2 separate regions of the Homo sapiens genome follow, and region 1 is linked to region 2. Evidence: fine-mapped expression QTL. Tissue or cell type: whole blood. Region 2 holds a variant in brackets; the other region holds the start of a gene. All regions are shown on one strand. Distances are from middle to middle.

The links. PIP is the estimated chance that this variant, and not a neighbour inherited with it, causes the effect.
Region 1: TKT starts here. The variant in region 2 is fine-mapped to the expression of TKT in whole blood (INTERVAL, PIP above 0.99).

What each region holds. Positions count from the first base shown.
Region 1 is chr3:53,252,500-53,260,602 of GRCh38, forward strand. TKT (transketolase) reads right to left here and starts at 3,523. Exons shown (of 14, transcript NM_001064.4): 1 at 3,337-3,523. The coding sequence starts at 3,443. RefSeq lists silencers at 3,120-3,809, 6,074-6,368 and an enhancer at 6,074-6,368.
Region 2 is chr3:53,334,656-53,342,758 of GRCh38, forward strand. It overlaps DCP1A (decapping mRNA 1A), which reads right to left. Exons shown (of 10, transcript NM_018403.7): 3 at 7,489-7,616. Among named protein-coding and RNA genes, the nearest start is that of SNORD38C, 5.6 kb to the left of the region's middle. The variant T/C (reference allele first, on the strand shown) is at 4,635.

The sequences.
Region 1 (8,103 bases), 82 kb before region 2:
TCACTGTATTTTACATATCCTTTTTTTCTTTTGCAAATGGATATTTTTTGAGTTCAGTGAGCTTCCCTCTCCAAGACATTACAATGTAAACATGGTGTAACTCTCGGACACCACAGTATGTTTCCGGAGGGGTAACGGCGGTGAGGAAATCAGACTTTGCCTAACAAAGAACTAGGAGACACACTTGACATTCCACTCTTTTGGAGCACCCTACATTTGTAAATCTTATTTCTCTCCAAGTGCCTTTCAGACTGACTAATATCCACCGCGGCTGTACCTGGCCTTCCCTTTCACCTTTTTCACCATTCTCCAGCCTGGCACAGACTGCTTGCCCAAGAGGCATTCTTTTTTTTTTTTGAGAAGAAGTTTCAATTTTGTTGCCCAGGCCAGAGTGCAATGGTGCAATCTCAGCTCACCGCAACTTCTGCCTCCCGGGTTCAAGTGATTCTCCTGCCTCAGCCTCCTGAGTAGCTGGGATTACAGGCGCCCGCCACCACGTCCAGCTAATTTTTTGTATTTTTAGTAGGGACAGGGTTTCACCATGTTGGCCAAGCTGGTCTCGATCTCCTGACCTTCAGGTGATCCACTCGCCTACACCTCCCAAAGTGCTGGGATTAAAGGGATGAGTCACTGCGCCTGGCCGAAACATTATTTATTTTTGGAGACAGGGTCTTGCTAATGTTACCCAGGCTGGTCTTGAACTCCTGGCCTCAAGCGAACCTTCTGCCTTGGCCTCCCAAAGTGCTGGCATACATGTAACACCATGCCCAACTATTTTTCTTTTCTTGGCCTTTCTTTCTTTCTCTCTCTCTCTCTTTCTTTCTTTTGAGACACAGTCTCACTCTGTCACCCATGCTGCAGTGTGTGGCATGTTCAAGGCTCACTACAGCCTCAACTTCCTGGGCTCAAGTGATCCTCTGCCTCAGCCTCCCATGTAGCTGGGACTACAGGTACACATCACCACACCTAGCCAATTAAAAAAAATGTTTGGCCGGGGGCAGTGGTTCACACTCGTAATCCCAGCACTTCGGGAGGCCGAGGTGGGTGGATCACCTGAGGTCAAGAGACCAGCCTGGCCAAGATGGTGAAACCCCATCTCTACTAAAAATACAAAAATTAGCCGGTGCGGTGGCGGATGCCTGTAGTCCCAGCTACTCAGGAGGCTAGGGCAGGAGAATCAGTTGAACCTGGGAGGCAGAGGTTGCAGTGAGCCAAGATTGTGCTGCTGCACTCTAGCCTGGGCGATAGAGCAAGACTCCATCTCAAAAAAAAAATTTTTTTTTTAAGCTATGGGGTCTCACTGTGTTGCCCAGGTTGGTCTGGAACTCCTGGGCTCAAGCAATCCTCCCACCTTGGCCTCCCAAAGTGCTGTGATTACAGGCATGAACCACCATGCCCTGCCAAGAAGCATTCCTGACAGCATGAGCCCCAACCAGACAGTACGGAATGGCCACCAATTCCCAGCCTGGGCAAGTAACTTAACACACTAGCCTCAGTGTTCCCGTCTATAAAATGTGAATACAACACAATCTATCTCACAGGGTTATTCTCAGGATGCAACAAACGATGATGCTGTGTCATACCAGATACCTACTTGGCAGCTCAGGAACCCTGTAAACATCTGCATGTTTTATCTAGCCCTGAAAGATGCTCAGATGTGCAATACTACTTAGTTGGGTAATTGCTGCCTCTCTCCAGCTAGACCTCAGACCCCCTGAAACGGCCAAAGGTAGCAGGTCCAACAGTACCAAATAAGCAATACAAGGCCTGCAGAGCTACCGTGTGCCAGGCTGGTGAAAGGGGAGCTGAGAGTAAGCCAGGTCCCTGCCCAGGCAGGGGATACCCCACATAAGTGGTAAGACTGACACAAACCCAGGAGAGCTAACAGGTCCAAAGTGTGCAAGGCAGTGGGTGGGGGAAGGGCTTTGAAAGACATCTAATCCCTTCTGAGAACAGGGTGTCTTAGAGGCACAAAGGGTGAATGCGTATCCACCCAGAAAGGTGAACAGATTTACTTCTTAATAATATATCCTGAATGAAATTGGCCAGAAGCCAGAATCTTGTCTGTCTGAAACAGAGCTTGTTTGGGAAGGTCCCGAGAAATCATCCATCACGCAGCCCTCACAACCCTGTCATGAGCCCGGAGCACTGCTGGCACTGTGGCCTCAAAGCAGCCTCCAAGTAGAGCACTGGAGTCCTTGAAACCACCCAGCGTGGTTAAGTGCCATTACTGTCCCCGCTTTACAGAGCGGGAAGCAGGCTCTGAAGTAATTCACTGACTGACCCCCTCACCCACCCCACTGGACACCTCCAGCTGCATGCACGGTGGCCCTCATTAATTATCCCTGTCTCCGCTACAGAGGAGGCTCCTTGGGTGTCCACCTTCTGGGCCAAAAGGGCTGGCCAGGGAAGGATCTTGGGGCCTAGGCACGCCAGCTCCTGCCTGGGAGATACAGCACCTGGTGGCTGGCCCTGCCCCAGGACGTCACTCCCGGCGCTAGGGCCCTGGAACTCCGTCCTTCCGGCGCTCAGCCTTCTCAGTCTCCTTGCCCTCCGCCTCCTCCCGCCCCAGGTCAAATCTTAGACCTCCTTTTCACAATGGATCCCAGGGTTCTGCACCCACGTGCCACCGCCCTCCTCCCCTCTTCCCCCAATCAGCCCCGCCGCTGCCTGGCGTCTCAGCAGCCCCCTGCTCCAAACTCGGACCCAACCCAGGGGTGGCAGGAGACAGGGGTAGGGGAGCGTAGTCTGAGGTGGGGAGAAGGCCGGGCCCCCGAGTCTCCTGCAAGAGGAATTAAAAACAGGGTCTCTAGAGTCGGACTGCTGGGGCTCAAATCAGATCTCCCTGTGTGTAACTTTGGGTAGCTGACTAACTCGGAGCCTCCGTTTCCCCATCTGGAAGGGGGAACACTCCCGGCGGCGCCCACACAGCCAGGTGGTGGAGAGGGTTAAGAGGGCCGCGTTCTGTAGAACAGCAGTAATGGTGGCCTTCCCGGCATCACCCTAGAGGGTACTTGGCGAGTCGCGAGCCCATCCCCCGCGCCACCATGCAGCTGCGCGGCCGGCGATCCGCGTGGGGAAGAGCCGGCCTGAGGCGCACGGAGGACCAGAGGCCCACGCGGCCGAGCCCGGGCGTAGGGCGAGTGTGCGGCGCAGCGGAAGCCGCCTGCAGCCCGGGGCCCTGCGAGGCGCGCGTCTCCGCCCTCCGACGGCGCCCGGGCCACCTTCCTCGTCTAGGCATCTCGCAGCGCGACCCAGAGCCCGCGGCGACTCTGGCCGCCGCAGACGCCCCCCGCCCCGCCCGAGCCGCGTCCCCGGCCGGCGCCGCGCACTCACCCAGAGCCCGCCGCAGTGGTGGCCTGGATGGAGCTGATACGTAGGCGGTTGGCCGTGTCCTTCAAGGCCTGCAGCTTCTGCTGGTCAGGCTTGTGGTAGCTCTCCATGGTGCGGCAGGCGGGGACCGGGCGCACACGCGGACACACAGAGATAGCGGCTGCTCCCGCGGCGACAGGCGGCTGCCGAGGCCGGGCGCGGGGCGGGGGCGCGTTAAGTCGCCGGGCGGGGCGGGGCGGGGATGGGAGAGGCGGGGCAGGGGGAGGAGGCGGGGCTCGGATCACCCCAGGCCTTCAGCCCCGCCCCGCCTGGGGCCGCCTCCTGCCCGCTCCCCTCCCCTAGGCGCTGGGCCGCTGCGGACTGCGAGGTTAGCAGTTAACCACACACACCAATAATAATAACATAACGAACAACTCAGGATTCGAGTCTGGGCTCCTGACTCGAAAGCCTCTCAGTCTCCCTCCTCCACACAGTCCTCCGTGGACTTGTCACGGCGAATCCCATTTTAGAGATGGACAAACTGAGGCTTGGCAAGGGCAATCAAGGTCACAAGGCTGGTGGGTGCCAGGCTTGGCCCCAGCCGACCAACCCCAGGCCCAAGAGACTGCAGGACTTAATTTTGAGACTGAGTTTCGCTGTTGTTGCCCAGGCTGGAGTGCAATGGCATGATCTTGGCTCACCACAACCTCCGCCTCCTGAGTTCAAGCAATTCTCCTGCCTCAGCCTCCCTAGTAGCTGGGATTACAAGCATGCGCCACCACACCTAGCTAATTTTGTATTTTTAGTAGAGACGGGGTTTCTCCATGTTGGTCAGGCTGATCTTGAACTCCCGACCTCAGGTGATCCGCCTCGGCCTCCCAAAGTGCTGGGGTTACAGGGGTGAGCCACCGCACCAGGCCCTATTTCTTTTTTCTAATAATTAAAAAACTTGTTTTTTCTTTGAGACGGGGTCACCCATGGTCACCCAGGCTGGAATGCAGTGGAGTGATTACAGCTGCCTGAAGCCTCAGCCTCCTGGGCTCAAGTGATCCTTCTGCCTCAGCCTCAAAAGTAGCTGGGACCATAGGTACACACTACCACGCCCGGCTAATTTTTGTATGTTTTGTAGAGATGGGGTTTTGCCACTTTACCCAGGCAGGTCTTGAACTCCTAGGCTCAAGCCATCTGCCCTCCTCTGCCTCCCAAAGTGCCGGATTATAGGTATGAGCCACCATGCCCAGCCACTCAGGGCTTTAGAGCCCTGCACAGGGGATGGGGATTATTGAAAATGAGAATAGGATAGTGGTAGCCATGACAATGCCAGGTGATGATAACTGAGAAATTACTAGGGGAAGATCCTTTACAAATTATTAGGGCCTAGAAACACTACTGACTTTTAGGGAGATTATTGGGTTTGCTTCCAGGTCTGTAGGGACAGGGGCACCCACCACTACTGTTATCAGACCCCATGGTTCCCAGAGGTATGAAGCTCCCCAGAGTGGGATTAGGGAGGGGACTTTCATCACAGACACTGTTTCATTCAATCTGCCCACCACACTTGGCCAGTGAGGTACATACTGCCTACAATGCCTATTTTACAGAGGAAGAAGCTCCATTTGACAGAGGAAAGATAAAGGCAAGACCCTCAAACGGATGGCTGGGCAGGGAGCTAAAACCCTGAGAGATCCAAGAGGCACCAGTGGCCGCCCTGTGTCCTCTGTGTCCTCCCTGCATTGCCCATACTCAGAGAGCTCTGGCTCATGAGGCGATTGACTGAATTTGAGTGAGTCCCCCAGCTCGCCTCCAGGTGCTCCTCTGCTGGCCTGACCCCCAGATGCCCAATCAGACCCTAAGTATGGCATCCCATAGCACCTGGCTCCTGCTGGCCCAGCCCGCAGAGGCTGGCCCTATGGTGTCTGGCTGGTGAGGGCTATGGGCTAGGATTGGAGGGGGGCCCCACAGTGTGCCACCCTCAGATGCCTGGCAGGTGCCACCTCTGCCCTCAAGCTGCTCACTGTCTGGAAAAAGGGCAAACCCTTGAAACCCTTTGAAAGCTCTGTGCCTTCCAACTCTGTGGCCCTTAGAGCAGTGGCTCCCTAAGGGAGTGGACTCCATTTCCCCATCTGCCTAATGGGACTCATCCTTATCACTCTGGTCTCTGACAATGGCACAGAACTCACCATGGCTCTGGGGACCTAGGAGTAATGGAAAGAAAATTGTCCCCTCCCCACCACCTGGAGCTCCAGGGACCTCAGGGAGGCTCTCTCTCCTCCTGGTGTTCCACATGAATGGGGCCTGTGATACTATGATATGCATATACAGGCCCCTGGCTTAGAACTGCCCCCAACCCTTGTTATACCACTGGGGTGCTTTAGACCTCAGGAGCAGACCCCAGAAACAGAGTCTCTCAGGCCTTCTCCTACCTTCCTTTCACCTGCTCCTTTCTCTCCCCATGGCAGGATCTTCTCCTGCCGGTCTGTCTTGGAGCTGGCCATAAGTAAGTTCTCTCACCTACCTCGTGTAATTGTAGGTCATTAGACCCCCATGAGAAGGGGTTCTGTCCCATACCCATGAGGAGGGAAGACCAGAGTGGGTGCAGAGTGATAAGGATGAGTCCCGTTAGGCAGATGGGGAAATTGAGGCCACTCCCTTAGGGAGCCACTGTCCTAAGGGCCACAGAGTTGGATGGCACAGAGTTTTCAAAAGGTTTCAAGAGTCTGCCCTTTTACCAGACAGTGAGCTTCACAGAGAGGTCAAGAAGAGTCAGGACACACAGGTCTTGCGGGGTTTCCCCACTCAGTCAGTTAGTATTAGATCATATACTTTTGGTCTAATCACATTTCCACAAGGTTGTCAATCATGTCTGTCCAATGAAATGTCCATGAAAGGCTCAAGAGGACAGGGTTCAGGAGCTTCTGGACAGCGGAACACGTGGAGGCTCACAGGAAGGTGAACAAGAACTCATCCACGTGCTGGGAGGGTGGAACATTCCAGCTCCATGGAGACAATGGCTCCTTCACTAGGGACCTTTCCAGGCCTCCGCCTATGTATCTCTTTGCCTAACTGTTTCTTTGTCTCCTTTAAAATATCCTTTGTAACTAACCGATAAATGTGCTTTCCTGAGTTTTGAGAGCTGCGCTAGCAAATTAATTGAACCCAAAGAGGGAGTGGTGGGAACCCCAACTTGAAGCTGGTCAGTCCCAATCTTGCGACTCATGGGAAGGAGGAGGTGCTCTTGGGGGACTGAATCCTTAACCTGTGGTTTCTGAGGCTATCTCCAGGTAATTAGCATCAGAATGGAATAGAGTTGGAGGACACCCAGCTGGTGTTGCTGCAGAATTGGTTGCTTGCTTGGTGCATGGGGAGAAACCCCCACACATTTGATCACAGGAGTCTTTTGTGTTAATTGTTGTGGTGTGAGAACAGAGGAAAAACAGAGTTTGAGTGTTTTCCCTTTCACAGGGCCCAAGGGTTCAGCCTTATTTCAAGAGCTCTTGGTCTTCCTGAAGGTCAGCTTCAGAACCAGAATCCTAGGCTAGCTGGAGGTGTTGCTAGCACCCAGTTTGTCCAGGGTGGTTCCCTTGTCCCCAGGTCCCAGGGTCTTTATTCGAACCCTCACGCCTCAGAAGTCACATGGCACTTGGAAGAAAGCCCTGGGATCCTGTCTGGCTTCCAGCTAACATCTGGCTCCCTGCTGCCCTCACACCCCATCCTCTCTCAGCCTCCTGTTCACCCTCCCCATGGCTGCCAGAGAAGTGTTCCTCCCCAGCTTAACTCCCATGTTGTTCTTCCTCCACCCTTTGGATATAATTCAGGTCCCCCAGCCCTACCCATCTCAGCCACACTGACCTCGCATTCCTTAAAAAATACCAAGCCCACTCCCTCCTAGAGGTTTTGCACAGGCTGCTCCCTGAGCCAGCAGAGCCCTTCCTGAGGCTCCTCACATGGCCTGGATCTAGAGCCATGCTGCCCATCACACTGCCTGTCTTGGTCTCTGCAGGGCTCTCTGCCTATCTGCATGATCTTTGGTCAGCTCCCGGAGAGCCGGAATACAATCTCTTGTCCCTGGCTCTATCCGCAGGGACTACAACTGGGTCTCATATACAATAGGGGCTCAATGAATGCCTGCAGAATGAAAGCATGAATGTCAAGTGATGTGCCTGAGGACACAGAGTCAGCAAGTGCCAGGGCTGCACCCAAGCCAAGAGGGCATCAGGGAGGCCTCAGGGGAGGGAATCTGGCCATTCAGACTGGTGTCCTTCATTCCGGCCTTTCCAGAAACCGAGACACAAAGGTGCTCTGTTGGAGGGTAGGAAGTGGCAGAAATGTCCTACTGCCGGCATCAGGTGCCAGCAGAGGCCACAGTGACCTGAGAGCAGAGCCACATTCTGGAATCTGAGCTGTCCCCCAGGACCCGTGCAGCACTAGGGAGAAGGTCACCCTTAGAGGAGCCAGAACAGTGTGAGTCCCCACGTAAGAGTCCCCCACAGCCACTCCCCAGGGATCTCCAGTATCACTAAAAGGGACCTGAGGGGGGTTGGGGTCCTGAGGGGTGCCATGCCACCCAGTATTGTTCCTGGGCAATGGCTTTGATCACCAAGGCAGTGCTGATGGATTGTACTGGCTGCCTAGAGTGGAATGTGAAGCAGAGAGTTCTGAATTGCCCTTCAGCCTGAAATGCCAGGACCGGTCTAGCCATACTGGGCAGGGGCACCTTGCATAAGAGACTGGCAGTGTCAGGAAGTCATGTCCCACCTCTTCATGTCCCCTGTACTTTGGGGACCCAGAGGG
Region 2 (8,103 bases):
TTGATGGTACCACAAGCCTGCATCTTAATATTTTCAATTAATCATGTTATACTGTGGAGCGTTTGGCTGTAAGAAAGAGAAAAACCAGTTGTCTGCTTTTACCCGTCACGCGCTGCAAATGCTCAATAGACACATGTGGCTACTGCACTGACAGCACTGCTGTGGGAGCTCCTACAGCAAGAATCTGGGGAGACAACTGCTGTTGTTTTTGTTGAAAAGTATCTTTATTTTGTTCTCTTCGATTACTGAATTATTGGTTTTTTTTTTTCTTCAGTCCTCTCAATATATTATTCTTTTGTCTTCTAAACTCAGTAGCTGCAACTATGGAATATGCTGTCAGTCTAACTGGTGTTCCTTTGTAAACACCCAATCTTGAGCAACCTTTGGTTGCTTCTGTCTCTGCCTTTGACATCTCATCAGAATGTGTCTGGGTGTGTGTGTGTGTGTGTGCACGCGCATGTGTATATATATATATTTTTTTTATTTTTATTTATTTATTTTTTGAGACAGAGTCTCACTCTGTCACCTAGGCTGGAGTGCAGTGGCATCATCCCGGCTCACTGCAACCTCCACCTCCCGGGTTCAAGCGATTTTCCTGCCTCAGCCTCCTGAGTAGCTGGAATTACAGGTGCCCGCCACCAGGCCCAGCTAATTTTTGTATTTTTAGTAGCGGTGGGGTTTCACCATGTTGGCCAGACTGGTCTCGAACTCCTGACCTCAAGTGATCCAGCCTGCCTAGGCCTCCCAAAGTGCTGGGATTACAGGCGTGAGCCATAGTGTCCGGCTAATATTTCTATGTTTTATGCTTGGAGCTCATTCTATTGTTTAAATCTGAGATTTATGTCTTTTATGGATTCTGGAAAATTCCCAGTCATCAACGCTTCAAATATTGCCTCTCTACAAATCTGCTTTATCATTCTGAAATTCTTATCCATCAAATGTTAGAGTTTATAATTCTAATCACTCTGTCATATTTCCATTTTGTCCTTTTTTTGGATACATTCTGGATTTCCTCAGATATATCTTCTAGCTCACCAATTCTCTTTTCAGCTATTACCAATTAACTGTTGAATCCAAGTAGAGAGTATCTTTCAATTAAAATTTTAATTTCTATTAGTTCTACTCAGCAATTTTTCAAATCTTCCTTTTTTTTAATAGCATTTAATTCTTTTTTATTCTTTTATTTTTTGAGACAGGGTCTCACTATCACCCAGGCTGGAGCGCAGTGGCGTGATCATGGCTCACTGCAGCCTCAACCTCGCGGGCTCAGGTGATTCTCTCACCTCAGCCTCCCAGGTCCACCCGGCTAATTTTTTGTATTTTTTATAGAGACAGGGTTTCGCCATGTTGCTCATGTTGGTCTTGAACTCCTGGGCTCAAGTGATCTGTTCGCCTTGGCCTCCCAAAGTGCTGAGATTACAAGTGTGAGCCACTGTGCCTGGCAGCATTTTATTCTTTTCTTTTTGAGATGGAGTTTAGCTCTTGTTGCCCAGGCTGGAGTGCAGTGGCATGATCTTGGCTCACTGCAACCTCTGCCTCCCGGGTTCAAACGATTCTTCTGACTCAGTCTCTCCCGAGTAGCTGGGATTACAGGTGTCTGCCACCACGCCAGGCTAATTTTTTCTATTTTTAGTAGAGATGGGGTTTCACCATGTTGGGCAGGCTGGTCTCGAACTCTTGACCTCAGGTGATCCACCTGCCTCGGCCTCCCAAAGTGTTGGGATTTCAGGCGTGAGCCACCGCACAGGGCCTTTATTCTTTTTTCACATTTGCTGTTCTTTTTACTTTATTTTATAATCTGTATCTGGTATTTACATCCATTAGAGTCTCTAGTTTCCATGAACTAAAGTCTTTGGGAAGGGTTGTATAATCCTGCTGTTTGTTATATGCTACCTTTCATTCACTGCAAAGTATTTCCTTGTATATTTAGTAATTTTAGACCATGAGACATGCCTGATATTCCTGGGCAACCTGGCTGGGCTAAGAATGTATCTTGCCAGAAGGGATCTACATTTGCTTCTGCCAGATGCCGTAGAGTAATCACCAGCTGATGATTAATTTTATGTTAATTTCTTGACCTGGGTAAGAAATGATACTAAATGAATGGTACAACTTGAACCTTAAATTTGTATGAGGGAAGTCCCATGGTTATTTTTTAGGAAGACATCTTCCTTCTAACCCAAAGCCCAGATTTATTTATTTATTTATTTATTTATTTATTTATTTATTTATTGAGATGGAGTCTTGCTCTGTCTCCCAGGCTGGAGTGCCAAGGGGCCATCTAGGCTCACTGCAACCTTCACTGCCTGGGTTCAAGCGATTCTCCTGCCTAGCCTCCCAAGTAGCTGGGACTACAGGCGTGCACCACCATGTCCGGCTAATTTTTTTGTATTTTTAGTAGAGATGGGGTTTCGCCGTGTTGGCCAGGCTGGTCTTGAACTCCTGACCGCAGGTGATCCACCCGCCTTGGCCTCCCAAAGTGCTGGGATACAGGCGTGAGCCACCATACCTGGCCAAGACTTCTCATTTTTAATATATATATTTTTCCAATGTATACCTCAGGCTTTCTAGTAATGGCCCCTACAACATTTGAAAATAATACTTGTAAAGAGACACAAAGAGCCTGCAGCTCATGCATGGTACTATCAGAAGGGATAGGAAGAAGCATATCACAGGCCTGTGTTATAAGAGAATCTGGATAGGCCAGGTGTGGATAACACTGATGTCCCTAGGATTCTTTCACTAATGAGATCATTTGTTGAGTCTAGAATGGAGACACAGTCTATGATATTTTGTATTTGTAAATGCCTAACAAAATACCTTACTTTCATGATGGCCTTTTAAGATAAATAGGTCAAATCAGTGGTTTAAATGATTTAGCCAAGGTTATAGTCAGTAAGGCAAAGCCCAGAATAGAATTCTTATCTGCAAACTAAATTCCATGCCAAAAGAATGTTACCATGGCAAAGCCACCCTCAGGGATATATTCTGCAGCTTTTGTATCTAGAAATCATTTGTAAGTTTCAAAAAGGAATGACTAAATAGGACGCATAAAAATCTAAGCCAAAGCTTCCCAAGTAGTTGTTTGATTCAGGTATGGCACAACAAAGAGCATGTTAGCACATGAGCTCATGCTGAGACTTCCACTGTCCAGTATGGCAGCTGCCAGCACATACAGCCATGTAAATTCTAATATATTAAATTAAATAAACTAAAAAGAAGTGTTCTTCATTTGCCCTAGCCACATTGCAGGCTACTATATGGGACAGTGCTGACACGGAACTATCATTTTCCCTAATTGCAAAGTTTTAGTGGATAGCACTACTCTAGAATATGGATTGATGAAGTAATTTTATTGTTACAGTAGAGTGGAAAGAACATTGGCCTTGAAGCCCGAAAGACCTACTCCCAAATTCTCCATCTGTCACTTATTACCTTTGCGAATCTCGAGCAGATTCCTAAACAGCTCTGAGCCTCTTGTTTTCTCAACCTGTAAGTTGAGGATCAGAAATAAGGTGCTAGAAATACCACTGCTACTCAATAACTCCAGAATTTATAACCTCCCCATAATTCATTGCAATCCCACTGGGGTCTTGTGACTGCCAAAAGGCCCTTGCACAGAATAAAAATACACTGTTCCCAAAAGATTCAAGAGGCTGGACATGGTGGCCCATGCTAGCACTTCGGGAGGCTGAGGCGGGAGAATTGCTTGAGCCCAGGAGTTCAAGACCAGCCTGGGCAACACAGTGAGACCTTGTCTTTTGAAAACAACCACCACCACCACCACCACTACCCCACAAAGATTTAAGAGAATCACCAAGCCTAAGCCCTTAGTCAGTGTAAGAATTTTCTCTTTAAGATTTTATCTTTTTCTTGAGGGGTGGGGTGGGTGTAGATGGGCATGTTTTATAAAGAAAAACTCTTGGCTGGGCGCGGTGGCTCACTCCTGTAATCCCAGCACTTTGGAAGGCCAAGGCAGGTGGATCACGAGGTCAGGAGATCGAGACCATCCTAGCTAACACGGTGAAACCCCGTCTCTACTAAAAATAGAAAAAATTAGCCGGGCGTGGTGGTGGGCGCCTGTAGTCCCAGCTACTCGGGAGGCTGAGGCAGGAGAATGGCGTGAACCTGGGAGGCAGAGCTTGCAGTGAGCCAAGATCATGCCACTGCACTCCAGCCTGGGTGACAGAGCAAGGCTCCGTCTCAAAAAAAAAAAAAAAGAAAAACTCTTAAAAATAAATAAAACAAATAACTTAGAACTGAAAAAAAGTTATGGTTCACTGTTCTAGTACATTAACTCCAAAAATTAATTTGAATGAAAGAAGTTGGATATGAAGGTGTCACTTGAGTTAAATGGGTCAGGTGTCTTGATGGTATTTCCCACAAGAGAATGGCAGAAGTGCAGCTATAGAATCAGGTATAATTACCTGTATGCATAATCAGATACTAACTTTTTATTTAAAGAACAAATCCCTAAACAACTTAATAGCTCGCTGACCTGACAAGACTATTTTCCACTTTTAAGACTATGTAGACAAAACACACACTCGAGAGGGCTTAACACTCACAAAATCATTTTCTGTTGTCTTATCACTTCTCCCCAATACAGCTATTCCTTTAAATACTTTCCCTAA[T/C]GAAATGACCTGGTTAAGTGAGTTTTCTGTTCAACTAAGAAAACTTTTGTTTCAATCAGTTGAAAATTTTCTAAAGTAAAATGCATTAATGCACTTTCTCCCCAAGAATGTTCTAGTTAACATAATAAATACTCCTGATGATTTTAGGTCTCACTATAACAATTTAACCTATGATACTACAGTGGAGTTAAAGTTATAAAATATTGACATTTTAATGCCGACCCCAGGTTATTCTCTGGATATCTGCTTGATTTTCAGAAAATAAAACCTAGTATTAGCTTGTTTTCTTATAATTTGCCTTCATTTCTTCCACACACGAACTATAAAAATATTTCCAGACAACTGAAGCTCTAATTAGTTAGCTTCTGGTTACTCATGGTTCAATTACATTTGTGTTATGTCACACTTTCAATTTCACAGGACTTTTGCCTTGTGAAAAAAATATAATACAATTCATCTCAGGTTTATGCTAAATGGTAACTGGGTCCGGATAACTTTCCCTACTGACTACTTTAATAATCAAACCACTTAGGAGTGATGGCTAGATTAAGTTTCCAGGCAGTAAAGAACAGAATTAAGCCTATTTCACTTAAAAAAAAATTGGATCCATATTCATTTGCAGAATTTCTCCCACCCTCTTTTCATTTTTTGAGTCAGGGTCTCGCTTGTTGCCCAGGCTGGAGTGCAGTGGCGCAATCATGGCTCACTGCAGCCTGGACAGCCTCCTGGGTTCAAGCGACTTTCCCACCTCAGCCTCCTGGGTAGCTGGGACTACAAGTGTGTGACACCACACCTGGCTAATTTTTCTATTTTTTTGTGGAGTGGGGGTTTTGACATGTTGCCCAGGCTGGTCTCAAACTCCTGGGCTCAAGCAATCTGCTTGCCTCGGTCTCCCAAAATCGTGGGATTGCAGGTGTTGAGCCACTTTGCCCAGCCGAATTTTCCCTTTAATGGAATATTCAGTACAAAGAAAAGAGCAATCTGAAATAATTACATTGTTAACATTAGTTTAAATAAATCCATCTGAACTTACAGCTATTACAAAGCATGTCTAATATGTCCACAGAATTTAAAATCTGAGAGGTAATTACCTGGACAAATAGTTTACTGAGAAGTCAAAAGATAGAACCTATTTCACTTATACTTCAAAGTGTGCTACGGAAAAGAACTTGGGGGTTTCTAGCTTTAAAATAGGCCTTGTTACTTCTCATTCAGGGAATTAAGAGGTGTATAATTTTTAGTAACTTTTTCTATTTTATACTGAAGACATCCCCCAAGACCAATTACCCCCCCGCCAAGTGAAATTCAAACACATTAACTTTTACTTTTTAAGTTAGAAGCAACATTTCTCCAACTATATCCTTAGATGCCAATTAGAGCACAATCATTGTTACCATAACCAGTTTTCATATCCCTATAGTCAATGTCCAACAAACTGTCCTCAAACACCCATACCTTCAATATCCATACTAATACACTGGAATCAAGTATATTTTTTAGTACTGTAGTTTCTTGGAAGGGCCACTCTAGCTTTGCTGACTACATCCAATCGTTATTAGAGATTGTAAAAATGCCTGAAAGAACCCTGGACTAAAAAGCAGAAGAATAGTCATAATCCTAACTCTCCAACAGGGTAATAGTTATGCATCTCTGAGTCTCAGTTGACTTAACTGCCTGCTTACACCACATAGGTAACTGTATCGTTAACATTAAAGCACCACAGCTCTTGGCTCAGTGCTGGTAACCAGTAGACACTCAATTAAATAAACAGATAGAAAAACCTTACTTAGAAACATATTCAGACAAAATAAAGTAGAAAAAGTAATAAATATCTTAAAAAAAAAAACCCATCACCACTATTCTGGGCAAAAATAATATTTTCTGGCCGGGCGTGGTGGCTCATGCCTATAATCCCAGCATTTTGGGAGGCCGAGGCAGGCAGATCACAAGGTCAGGAGATCAAGACCATCCTGGCTAACACGGTGAAACCCCTTCTCTACCAAAAATACAAAAAAATTAGCCAGGCGTGGTGGCGGGTGCCTGTAGTCCCAGCTACTTGGGAGGCCGAGCCAGGAGAAGGGCATGAATCCGGGAGGCAGAGCTTGCATGAGCCTAGATCACACCACTGCACTCCAGCCTGGGCAACAGAGCAAGACTCCGTCTCAAAAAAAAGAAAATAATAATAGTAATAATAATACTTTCTTTGTGGAAAGAATTATCTGTATCTGTTCCCATCCTGTGTGTCCCAAACTAAGTTCTGTTGCTTAGGGACATGGGCAGCTGATAGTCCACAGCTGCAAAAAAACAAAGGCATAAACCTTATTTTAATAAACCGACAACAGAAATGTAGTGCTATTAAATGAAATAGTAAACTAAATTATATACAAAAGAATGTTTCCAGTTTCAGAGCCCAGTTTATTTATTTATTTTTTTGAGACACAGTCTCATTCTGTTGCCCAGGCTGGAGTACAGTGGCGCGATCTCAGCTCACTGCAACCTCCACCTCCCAGGTTCAAGTGATTACAGGCGCCTGCCACCAAGCCCGGCTAATTTTTTTCTGTATTTTTAGTAGATACGGGGTTTCACCATGTTGGCCTGGCTGGTCTCGAACTCCTGACCTCAAGTGATCTGCCCTCCTCGGCCTCCCAAAGTGCTGGGATTACAGGCATGAGCCACCACCTCTGGCCTCAGAGCCCAGTTTAAAAGGTTTGATCTTTCCAACAGACTCATTTATAATCATTAAGTAGAGACCATATTTTGTTTTGTAATTTGAAACTTCCTAAATAATGGATTGATAGAAACTAAAGTCACTCAATTTTAAATGTAATAACTATAATAAAACAGATATACTCACAGCTTGCATTTCTATACAGAAGAAATGGTTCATGGAGCTGAAATTCCAAATCTTTATTCACTGGTTCAACTAGATTGTGCATATTTAGTCGATTCACAATGGTAAAACCATGGTAAGGGGAAGCTGACCTTAGATTTAATAGAAGAAAAAAAAATATGTAGTTACCATTTAATCTGTAGAAATGTTATCTACTATGTACTTTATTTTCATTTCAAAAAAGAATGCATTAGAACATTATACAATATTATCAGCACTTACATCTGTAAACAAAAAATTTAAGTCAGATCATACTCCTCCTCTGACGAGAAGTCTCCAAAGACAGTCTCTCAGAGTAAAGGCCAAAGTCCTTACTGAGGCCACCAAGGCCCCACCTGATATACTCCCCACTCTGACTTCATTTCCTATGGCTCTTCTCCAGCTCCTACTCTCCAGCCACACCGGGCTCCTTGCCACTCTCTCTGCGTGTGTGCTTCTACCTAAAAACCTCTTCCTGGATTACTGCCCCAGAAGCTGCACAGCTATCTCATCTCCTCCAAGCCTTTGTTCAGATGTCACCTTTTTCATGAGGCCTACTTGAACTATCCTTTTTAATGCTCCCAAGCTCAATATCTCTAA